2 separate regions of the Homo sapiens genome follow, and region 2 is linked to region 1. The links come from fine-mapping of genetic effects on gene expression. A gene starts in region 1. The other region holds a variant in brackets. All regions are shown on one strand. Distances are between the middles of the regions. Region 1 holds the start of SLC67A2 (solute carrier family 67 member 2). Region 2 overlaps SLC67A2 (solute carrier family 67 member 2).

Region 1 (5,380 bases):
GATAATCTGGAAATCTTTTCCTCATATAATCAGAGAGCTTATCTTAAAGGTGGTATCCTCTATGGCTATACCTGGCCTACAAAAGAGAGCAATCGCAAATCTTTTCAAAACTGCAAGTGCATCTCTCACTAATACATTCCTCAGTGCCTTAGTGCAGGAAGTGTCGTCTTGGCCTCTTCGTGGAATATATTTGAGTATTAGGCTTGCAAGTCATACATAATAAATCCACTCTGACATTGTCATTTTTCCAAAACTTTTGGAGTCCTTTATCCACATTTTGCCAGGAAAACTCTGGCATCTGAACATCATTAAATATAGGCCATCTTTGAGTCTAAATTTCAACCAACTGACTAAACTACTAGAGCTGCCTCCAGCTGCACAAGCTAACATATTACATCGGTATATGTTGTAAATGCATCTATACTAGTGAATTCTGCCTAATTTAGTGTTATATTATTCCCTTTTTTTGTCTGACACCCTTAGAAATCTCTCCCCCAGGTTTCTAAAGTTTACATTGATTATATATTAGCAGAGACTTCCAAATCTTTTATTATTATTATTTTTACACAGAGTCTCCCTCTGTTGCCAGGCTGGAGTGCAGTGGGGCGATCTCAGCTCACTGCAACCTCTGCCTCCCGGGTTCAAGCTCTCCTGCCTCAGCCTCCCAAGTAGCTGGGACTACAGGCGCGCACCACCACGCCCAGCTAAATTTTTTGTATTTTTAGTAGAGACAGGGTTTCACCATGTTGGCCAGGATAGTCTCGATCTCTTGACCTTGTGATCTGCCCACCCTGGCTTCCCAAAGTCCTGGGATTACAGGTGTGAGCCACCGCGCCTGGCCGTGACTTCCAATTCTTTTGGCGTGTATGAGATGTCCTCCTAGGTTATAATGTGTACCTGTCACCAGAGCATGCTAAAATTTCACCCTAGCTATGTATTTAGTAGCCACAGTGAGTGGTTTTAATGGGTTAACATGAGCAGCCCTTTCAAGGCGCCTTTCCCAGATGAGTTACTCACAAAATTTCAAGCACAAAAAGACTAGTTTCCTCAGCTATAGGAGAGCAAACTAGTTCTCCTGCAAAGGAGTCTCAGAATAACTTGGGGGTTCACGATTGACAGTTTCACCTGGATTCAATTATATGTCTTAATTCTAAGTATCAGTATTCCACTTCTCCCTATTCAGTGCCACCTCCCATGAGAAACTTTGCAACACTGAATTTAACAGATCTCAGAATTAGCAACCTACACAAGTAAATTGAGATTTTGAGCAAAATCTCAGTAAAATGTCAGAGTCTTCTTGATCCCACAGTGAAAGAGGAATAAATAACAAGTTCTAAAGAAAAGAGGGGCTAGTCACTATTGTTAACATTTATTACTTACCATGTGTCATGGGCTTTGCTAAGTAATTTAAAGGCATCTTTTGGTGTCATGCACTCACTTAATTCCTTTCACTGCACTCAGAATAAACCCCAAATCTCTGTTATGGCCTTCTGGGTCCTAAATGGTCTGCACTCCTGCTGACCTCTCAGTTTGATGAGGAAGTTTCAGCCACACATATCTTCTTTCCACTCTTCTCAGCTTACATGTCACCTCCTCCAAACTGCTTTTCTAAAGTAGCTCACTCCCCACCTCATTACTTTCCACATCAAGACCGTGCTTCTTTATATTATCACCATATTATTTTACTTATTTTATGCTTTTTCATTGCATGTTTAGTATTTTTATTTATGTTTATTTACTGCGTGCTTATTATTTTTACTCCATGAGACTGTAATCTCAACTCAGGCATAGACCATCTATGGTTTGTTCACATTGCACTGCACCAGAAAGGATCTTAAGAAGCATGTGTAGAATTCTCACACCTCTAGAAGTTGGACTACATTATTTCCTACTGCTTTTTAAATAGGCAAACGAAAGCTTGGAGAGCCACGTTAACGTATCCTAGGTCTGTCACAACCAACTGGTGGCCAGGGTCTGTGGATCTTCAAGCTGGAGTTGGTCACCTCCTAGCACAACTCCATAGGAGGAAGTGAAGCTCAATACAATTCCCTCCTGTCCTCCAACGATAGGGGCAGCAGGGTCTGTACCCAGAGGAAACAAAGAGCATCATCATTATCATCACAAACTGGTGTGTGCTTACCGTATTGATGATGTGCCCAGTCCCCACCTTGCCTGAGACCAGAACTCCCAGCCAGCACCGGCCACGCACCCGCGGAGCTGCCAGGTAGCACCCGCCCCCTCTCTCTGCGCAGGCGCGCGCCTCCTGCTTCCGCTCGGGGCGGGGCTGGGCTCCCGGGGTAGGTCCGCGGCTGCTGCTGCGTCCGACCCCCGGCCGGCGCGGGTATGGAGCTTGGGGGTCACTGGGACATGAACTCGGCCCCGAGGCTGGTCTCGGAGACCGCAGAGCGGAAACAGGAGCAGAAGACAGGAACCGAGGCGGAGGCTGCCGACTCCGGTGCCGTCGGAGCCCGCCGCTTCCTGCTCTGTCTCTACTTGGTGGGCTTCTTGGTGAGTGCGAGCGTGGGGGCTGGGAGCAAGTGCTGACTGTGTTCGGGCCTGGGGACCCAGGCGGTTCTTGGAGCTTCCGGGGAGCTCCCAGGGAGTGGGAACCCGCAGTCCGCCTGGTGAGTGCCTCACTACCTATCAAGCTCTCCTCTTGCCCTATCACCCACTTCAGTCTGCATCTGGCCACACTGCTTTATTGCCCCTCGCGCTTTCTCTTGCACCCCGTTCGCGGAACGTCTTCCCTTCCCTGCCTTTTGAGAAGCCCTGGTACCAACCTCAGGTGTGACCAGGTGTTAAATGCTGTGGCAGGTGCAGCTTTTGCAGGGCGGAGAACAGGGGTGTGGGCAAGCTTGGAAAAGCCCAGCTGCTGTGCGGCTGCTGGTGAGGTAGGGACACGCAAGCCTTTTTACCAGAACAGGCAGGGGAGGCCGCTCTTGACCCCGCTTGGACAGATTTAGGCACATTTTCACTAGGATTCTTGGTTGACTTAAATATTAAAAAATGCAGATCAGAGTGAATTTTACCCATCTGCCTTTCGACAAACTGCGCATTGCACAGCGTAGGTTTGGTTTCATCATGATGTGTGTGCCTGTGGTTTGCTTTTTTACCAGACCAGGCTGGAGAAGCCGCTGTTGATGACCCCACTTGTACAGAATTGGGTGCATTTTCACTAGAGCTCTCGGTTGACTTGAATGTTTAAAAATGCAGATCAGAGTGAATTGTACCCATCTACCTTTGGACAAAGGGTGTGCATTGCACAATGGCGGTTTGGTTTCATCGTGTGTGTGTGTGTGTGTGTGTGCGCGCGCGCGTGTCCTGGTTTGCTCCCTGAGTGCTAATTTCCCACGTAGAATGGAAAGTTTAGTAAGCTGATTCATGGCATTTCTGAACACCTGCCATGTGGCAGGTGCTGCGGAGCTTCACTATTGTAATCCACAGTTCTGCCACAGAAGAATTCAGTCTTACAAGTAAGCTGATGTTGGTAGTTTCTGGGCCATTATCTGCAAGAACCCTAGATCCACCTCTGCACTCCTCCCTTTCCAAGGCTAGGCCTGATTCAGCCCTGAGTGTGAGCTAATCCAGTATCTTGAGGGTAAGGAAGCTGCGATAAGTGTCAATGGGAGAAGGCTGCCTTTGAGGCCTTGAAGATAGTATCTGATGGCACTGGGCCCTGGCAGGGAGTCATCGTTTTCTGCCCAGATGCAGATCAAGACCACCACTTCTCCCAGTTTCATGCACTCTCCATGCCACCACCTCCATGCAAGGCGTTCAGTTGGTAGCAACTCTATGTTGAGTTAATAGTTAAGATCACCATGAAAGCATGTTCATCAAATTGCTGCAAGCCCAGAAACACAAGGTCTTCAGGGAGGGCGGCTTTTTAGAGAGGATTTCTCTGCCTCTAGGCCATTGCAGGATCCACCCTCCAGCTCCATGCCTTTAACTTCAGAGACTGGCACTCCTTCTGACCACTATTCCTTTAATCTAGTAGTTCATTCTCAGCATGGGGATGCTTCTTCTACTTTTCAGTCTAGGCACCTAGAATTCACAACCAGTGAGTATGGGTGGTTCTTGGAGAGGAGTTGGCTGACATCCAGCCTTTTTAGTTATGGGTCCCAAGCTACTGCTGTCCTGTCTCAGAAGGGACTTGGGCTGGTTCAGCCAGATGAAAACATTTGAGCCCTTACCTGGAAAGTCCAGACTAGGGTTCAGAGAATTTGACTTAGAATTCAAAGTAGTTTTAGTATTAGAATAAAACAAAGCAATTCGCAGATCATTTGTTAAGGTCAGCCTTCCAATACAGATTTGAATATTCACAATTTATCATATGTTTTCTTTATGCTGTGTATTTGGCAAGTCTAATCTAGCAAGCCTGATACAGAATTTTAATAACTTTAATAATGTATTCAAGAGAACCATTAGGTGTCTCATATCTTAAGGGAAAAGTTTATGGTTTCCCAAAAGTTGAAAGAGTAGGGATTTTTTTAATGGAAAATATTGTAAACAATTAAATATATGAAGCTTTACATGAAAGTCACATAAAGCTACCTAACAGATGATTGTTAGGTAACATCTAAGGAACATTATACATAATTTAGTTTTTTTTTGACATATTTAGGGATGTAGAGACCTCTAAGATTCTTGGACAAATGGTTTCTGAATGGGAGAGGAAGGGAACAAGCTTAGAGAAGTCATTTGCCAAATTGTTCTGTTTTAGCAGTTATCCGTACTTCCAAGTTTTAATTTGTTTAGGAGGGAAGACCAAGATGACCCTTGAGGCCCGTTTTGTTTAGGATGCTTAGATGGTGATGAGATCTATTATTTCAACCACTTTTTTCCTCCAGATACTTGGTGAGATTTGTTTTCCATCCCATCAGCTTTATTCAGGTGATAATTCATTTTCATTGAGATAGTCCAGTAATCAATAATTACTGGGGTTCCTACCCTGAAAAGAGTCTTGAAACTTTTGAGTGTACATATTCATCAATTTTTATTGAAAAATGTTGATATTCAGTGAAAGTTTAAGTGGCCCCTTCTGACATGATCTTTTTACAAGTGGTTACATGCACATGACCAGATGCCAAATGCAGCGATTTTGAAGAAGCTATGGATTGAGAAGCAGAAAGGAGTTGCCTTTTATAGTAAAGGAGAAGGCAATTTTAGAACAGAACTTCCTGAGAGGAAAGATTCAGTGGCCAGTCTCCTTGGAAGAATATAGTACTTTTCAGACTCACCAAGTGCTAAAGTAATACCAATCATCAGTTATTGCCTTTGAGTCTGTATTTTCATACTTACCTTCCATAGAGCTCAGTCTCTTGACCTAAATATTTCTCTCCATCTCTTATTTAGGATACCCATTTTATTAAATGATATGTTG
Region 2 (5,380 bases), 21 kb after region 1:
TAGGAGGGAGTTTTCTATCAAAATCCTGCAGATTGAAGAAGCTGGTTTATTAGAACCAGCCTGTCGCTTTTCAAAGCTGCTTAAAAATAAGATACTGACCTCACCCCTAGAGATGATTCAGTGGGCCTGGGTGGGGCCAAGAAATCCGTGGTGTTTTGTAAGCACTGCTGGCGATTTCTCATGGCAGTAAAGACCACACTGAGACTGCACTGATTTTGATTAAAGTACATAGGCTTGGCTGTTTTTACACAGCTAACTAAATTTGGACTCTTAAAATTGTGTTTGTAATCACAGTGTGTTACACCTTTCCCAGCTCTCAGCAGTTGTACTGCATGATGGAGCAGCGGGCCCCTGGGACCTGTTCCCTGTGCTCCCTGCCTCTGAGAGCCCAGCTTGCTCTGAAGTTGGACTAAACCACTTAGATGCTGGGGTTGCCACAGCCTGCTCCTGGAAGCCTGCATTCCAGTCAGGTTGCATCCTTCTGGTGCTGACAGAACCCAGTGGTGAAGCCAAAGCACAGGAATGCTTTAAAAATGAACAGTTTATGCAGAATAAGGGTCAGGAGTCATGCCAGACCAGAACTTGATGCTACTGTGTCTTGTGTTAAGAATCATTTCCTGGCCAGGCTCGGTGGCTCAGGCCTGTAATCCCAGCACTTTGGGAGGCTGAGGCAGGTGAATCACTTGGTCAGGAGATGGAGACCATTCTGGCTAACATGGTGAAACCCCGTCTCTACTAAAAATACAAAAAAAAAATTAGCCGGGCGTGATGGCGGGCGCCTGCAGTCCCAGCTATTCGGGAGGCTGAGGTAGAATGGCGTGAACCTGGGAGGCGGAGCTTGCGGTGAGCCAAGATTGTGCCACTGCTCTCCAGCCTGGGCGACAGAGTGAGACTCCGTCTCAAAAAAAAAAGAATCATTTCCTTTATTTTTAGTTTCACGCCTGCAAACACAAGCATTCTGTTGATCAACGGAAATATTTTGATGTGCCATTTCTTGTCTAAACAAGTTTCATATACAGCACCGAGGGGGCCACGAGAGGCAGAGGCCCAGACAGAAGGTGAACATAGCCTTGCAGGGAGACATATGCCAGGCAGGATGACCATTGGGATTGCATCAAGTATTAATCAGTTACTTAAGGGCTTCCTGTCAGACAGTTGAAGTTCACATTCCTTTTACTTTTCTTAATTAGTCCACTAGGATGGTATGCCTGTTTTCAACTTAACACATGCATACTTGTAAATATTTTAGTATGCTACAGTAATTTGTCATATCTTTAATATTTATTGTTTGTAAAGCAGTAAACATTTCTGTATTTTAGAAGTCATGGAGTAAAATCAAATATTTATGATAAATAATTGGAAGTATGTTTTAGTTTGAAGATTGTCCTTTTTCCTATCTTGCTGCAAGGAAAAATGGACTTCTGATTAGGTTTTACAATTGTGAACTTTTATGTAAATGTTAAGTGCTTTCGAGGAGACCAAACTATTATTAATATATAAAATGGCCTTGCCCTTAAGGAGCAAATTAAATCTCATGGAGATTAGACTCAAAAGGCAATAAATAATCGAGGGTTTATGCAATGAAATAGAATTTCAGAAGAGTTTGGATCTCAAAGATTGTCCTTCACTCTCAGAAACAGGCAAGTTTCTTAAAAGCCCTTATAGTCGTGTTTTTATTTTAAAAATCGTAGCACTTTATTTTTGAAGTTTAAAAAGCCCATAAACTTAATGAGTCTTTATAATCAGACACATGGAAATATAGAAAACCAAAGACTGATCTTAGAATATAGAGTAGAGAGACATGTTTGTTATTCTCCACTAGTGACTTTAGTATTTTGTTATGTGATGTTTTTTAGGTGCACCTTTTCTCATGACTCCTTTTACTTTATCTAATGTCTTCCTCTTTAAAGTGTGACCCAGAGACCAGTAGCATCAGCATCACCTGAGACCTGTGAACACTGAAGCTCCAGCTCAGACATGTTGGGGACCATTTTAATAAGATACCTAGCTGATTTTTTGCACAGCAAACTTTGAAAACCCCTGGTCTAAGGGGTAGTATTTGTATCACTTATGGAATATAATCTCAGGGAAATTAAATCTGCTCAATTGACATTTGTGGTGTTTCATTTTTTAAATTCTCTTGAGTAACTTCTGTAGCCCTTTCCAGTGTGTCAGGTTGAGCCACATGAAGTTGCTATTTTTGTAAGTCAAAAATATCTTCATAGGGTGCAACTCACTATTCTATGGAATCTTATTTTAGGAGTATTGAACCTTCCTGAAATGTCTTTGAAGGAAGTGTCACCCTTTCCAACACTCTGCCAGCCATAACTGCTTGGGAACAGGTCTCCAGGATTTGGGTTCCATAGAGCAGAAGGTAGGCCTCTGCCCTCATGTCTAGAGGGATGAATAACATTCTGAAAAGGTACAGGGTGTGTCTAGTCACAGGAGTCACCTGCAAGGCTCCAAACTCAGGCTGGATGGCCCCTTGGGGAGTGAATTCTGCAAGAGTTGCACCTGGGGCCAACAGAAGGAGCTGGAATCACTGATTCTGTATCCTGGCTACATGCCTTAGACCACAGGAACCAGACTCTGAAGCACCACAGATGTTTCTGTGAACATCTGGAGTTGGGAATCACTGAGTTAGATCAAGAATGGATTCGGCTGCCATGCTCGGGTTGAGATTGTATTGACGGATGAAGGGGAATGACGGAAGAATTCCTGCGGTAAAGTGCTGTGAAGACACTCCTGTTTTAGAAAGAGCTCTCTAGCCGCAGC[A/G]AGGAGGATTAACTGGAGGCCCAAGGAGTAGTCTGGACTTTGGGGCAGTAACTTTAGGGGGGCCCTGAGGGAGAGCTGGTCGCGAGGACAGGGACAGCAGGCAGAGGTTGTGGCCCACAGGGCAATCGCAGGAGAGGTTGTGAATAATTCCCAGGTGATGAGTGTGCAGCTTTGAGGAATTTCAAAGGGTTGCTTGGCGTCTTTTCCTGAAGACACTTCTATAAGGTATTTAGAAATCTATCAGGAGTGAGAATCAGTCCAGTCAGAAAATTTTAGGCATTTGGGCAACTGCATTCAGAAAACAGCTATTTATTTGGAATGCATAATAAAAGCCATGAGACTGAATCTCCATGCCTCTTTGCCCCCTAGTAGCCTTCAAGAAGTCTCTAAAACAGGGTTACCACAGATTTAGCCAGGATGATGTGTAGCAGCTTTTCTTGGAACAGGTTGATGGATTAAAATAACTTTTTTTCAGCTCTAATGTTTTTTTCTTGAATTTGCCAGTCACATGATAATTTTCTTCAAAAATAAAACTTTATAATTGTAATGAGGAACTGTCATTTATTCTTATAAGTTGTATTTTTAGAAGTCACTGATGTGTCTTGCTACATATTTCAATTCAGGATCCAGAAGTGCTTTGAAAAATGTCATCTCCAGTATGCTAGAACACATCTTAATATTAAAAACAAGGCTTTGGCTTTTAAAACCATTATGCAGATACCAAATATATATGTAATCTGACATTTATACTGAAGGCCAGTAAGTAGAGGACAGTTGATCCTTGAACAACACAGGGGTTAGGAGTGCCAAGCCCCCAAAACGGTAGAAAATTTGAGTGTAACTTTTGACTCTCTAAAAATTTACTACTAATAGCTTACTGTTGACATGAAGCCCTACCAACAATATTAATAGTCGACTGACATGTATTTTGTGTGTTACATATATACTGTATTTTTACAATGAAGTAAGCTAGAGAAAAAATGTTAAGAAAAAGAAAAATAATATTATTAAGTGGAAATGGAATCATAAGGGTCTTCATCCTTGCCACCTTCATTTTGAGTAGGCTGAGGGGGAGGAGGAGAAGAAGGGATTGATCTTGCTGTCTTAGGGGTGGCAGAGATGGAAGAAAATCCCCGTTTAAGTGGACCTGTATAGTTCAACTCTGTGTTGCTGAAGGGTCAACTGTACTTTTAAGGTAACATCTCACAGTAGGATTTATTTCTAGTTAAGCAGATGCACAAATACTTAGATCTCTCATTTTTCCCAAACAGGTATCTAAACACCATTTTATAGATAGCTGTCTACTAAAACAATAAAAGCAAAACTTCTGTTTTCCTGTTTCAGTATATTATAAGAAACGTTTATTTATGAGATGGAGTCTCACTCTGTTGCTCAGGCTGGAGTGCAATGGCACAATCTTGGCTCACTGCAACCTCTGCTTCCGGGTTCAAGCAATTCTCCTGCCTCAGCCTCCCGAGTTGCTGGGACTACAGGCACGCGCCACCACGCCCAGATAATTTTTGTATTTTTAGTAGAGACAGGGTTTCACTATGTTAGCCAGGCTGGTCTCAAACCCCTGACCTCAGGCGATCCGCCCACCTCTGCCTCCCAGAGTGCTAGGATTACAGGCGTGAGCAACGGTGCCTGGCCACTGATTCTTATTTTTAAAAGTGACTTAACACAGCTTGTATTGTTCCTTCCAGGGAGAAGATAATTATAAACATTAAGGAAGGAGTGTTAATTATTGCTGATAACTTACACAGCGTAAGAATGAACTGTAAGGATCTTGTTTGAACAAAGAATTGTATTTTGATCAGTCTTTATACTACATCTTGATACAGTTCTTTTTTCTAAGCATCCACTGTAGAGGAAGAAAGTGGTTAAAATACCTATTAATGATTGCAACTTATAACATGGATAGGAGACAGTCTTCCTTCAAGCTTACCAAAGAATCTCCATGCCATTTTGAGTAGTTGAGACACAGCCTCTTATCCAGACAGAACTAGTTTTTTGTGTGATAGCTTACCTACCTAAACCTGTCCCAAGTTTGCTTAATGAAATTGAAACCACATGAAATATCCAAAGCAAACCTAATAAAGGTGTTCTGCCGCTGACTCGGGCTGGACCCTTGTGGGGCTGTATGTATGCGACTTGGTAGGTGTTTGCCTTAAGTAGTCTGTTCTGTGGGGCTGAAGCATAGGCCTGGCCATCTCAAAGCCTAACATCTGTCAGGCCCAGTCTGTGACGTCACTGACAAGGGTGAGCATTTTCTTTGGGGCACCTTCAAAGTACCTTCACTGTGCATCTCTTTGGAGTGAATAGCACTGAAAGCATGATGAACTGTTACTGCCATTCAAAATAACTTTCTAGCTAAAGGTCAGGACTTAAACTAAAGGTTCAATAGTAAGACATAGTTATGGTAGCAAATCTATTATTTATTAATCAGATGCCAAACTATGTATTCATGGAAACCTAAAATTTGATGTGTTAATACACATCTTTGCATAATCTTTAAAAATTATTAAGGCAATAATTGGAATTAACTTCTTTTCTTTACGTTTGCATGGGAAGGCCGTATTTAATATTTAAAAGCATACACCATTTT

Evidence for each region. PIP is the estimated chance that this variant, and not a neighbour inherited with it, causes the effect.
Region 2: its variant is the best candidate, but not a certain one, in a credible set for the expression of SLC67A2 in whole blood (TOPMed, PIP 0.62).

Annotation. Positions count from the first base shown.
Region 1 is chr2:102,733,774-102,739,153 of GRCh38, reverse strand. SLC67A2 (solute carrier family 67 member 2) reads left to right here and starts at 2,266. Exons shown (of 6, transcript NM_032718.5): 1 at 2,266-2,508. The coding sequence starts at 2,344. It also overlaps a transcript of TMEM182 not described here. RefSeq lists a silencer at 2,150-2,359.
Region 2 is chr2:102,712,572-102,717,951 of GRCh38, reverse strand. It overlaps SLC67A2 (solute carrier family 67 member 2), which reads left to right. Exons shown (of 6, transcript NM_032718.5): 6 at 1-3,322. Among named protein-coding and RNA genes, the nearest start is that of SLC67A2, 22 kb to the left of the region's middle. The variant A/G (reference allele first, on the strand shown) is at 2,776.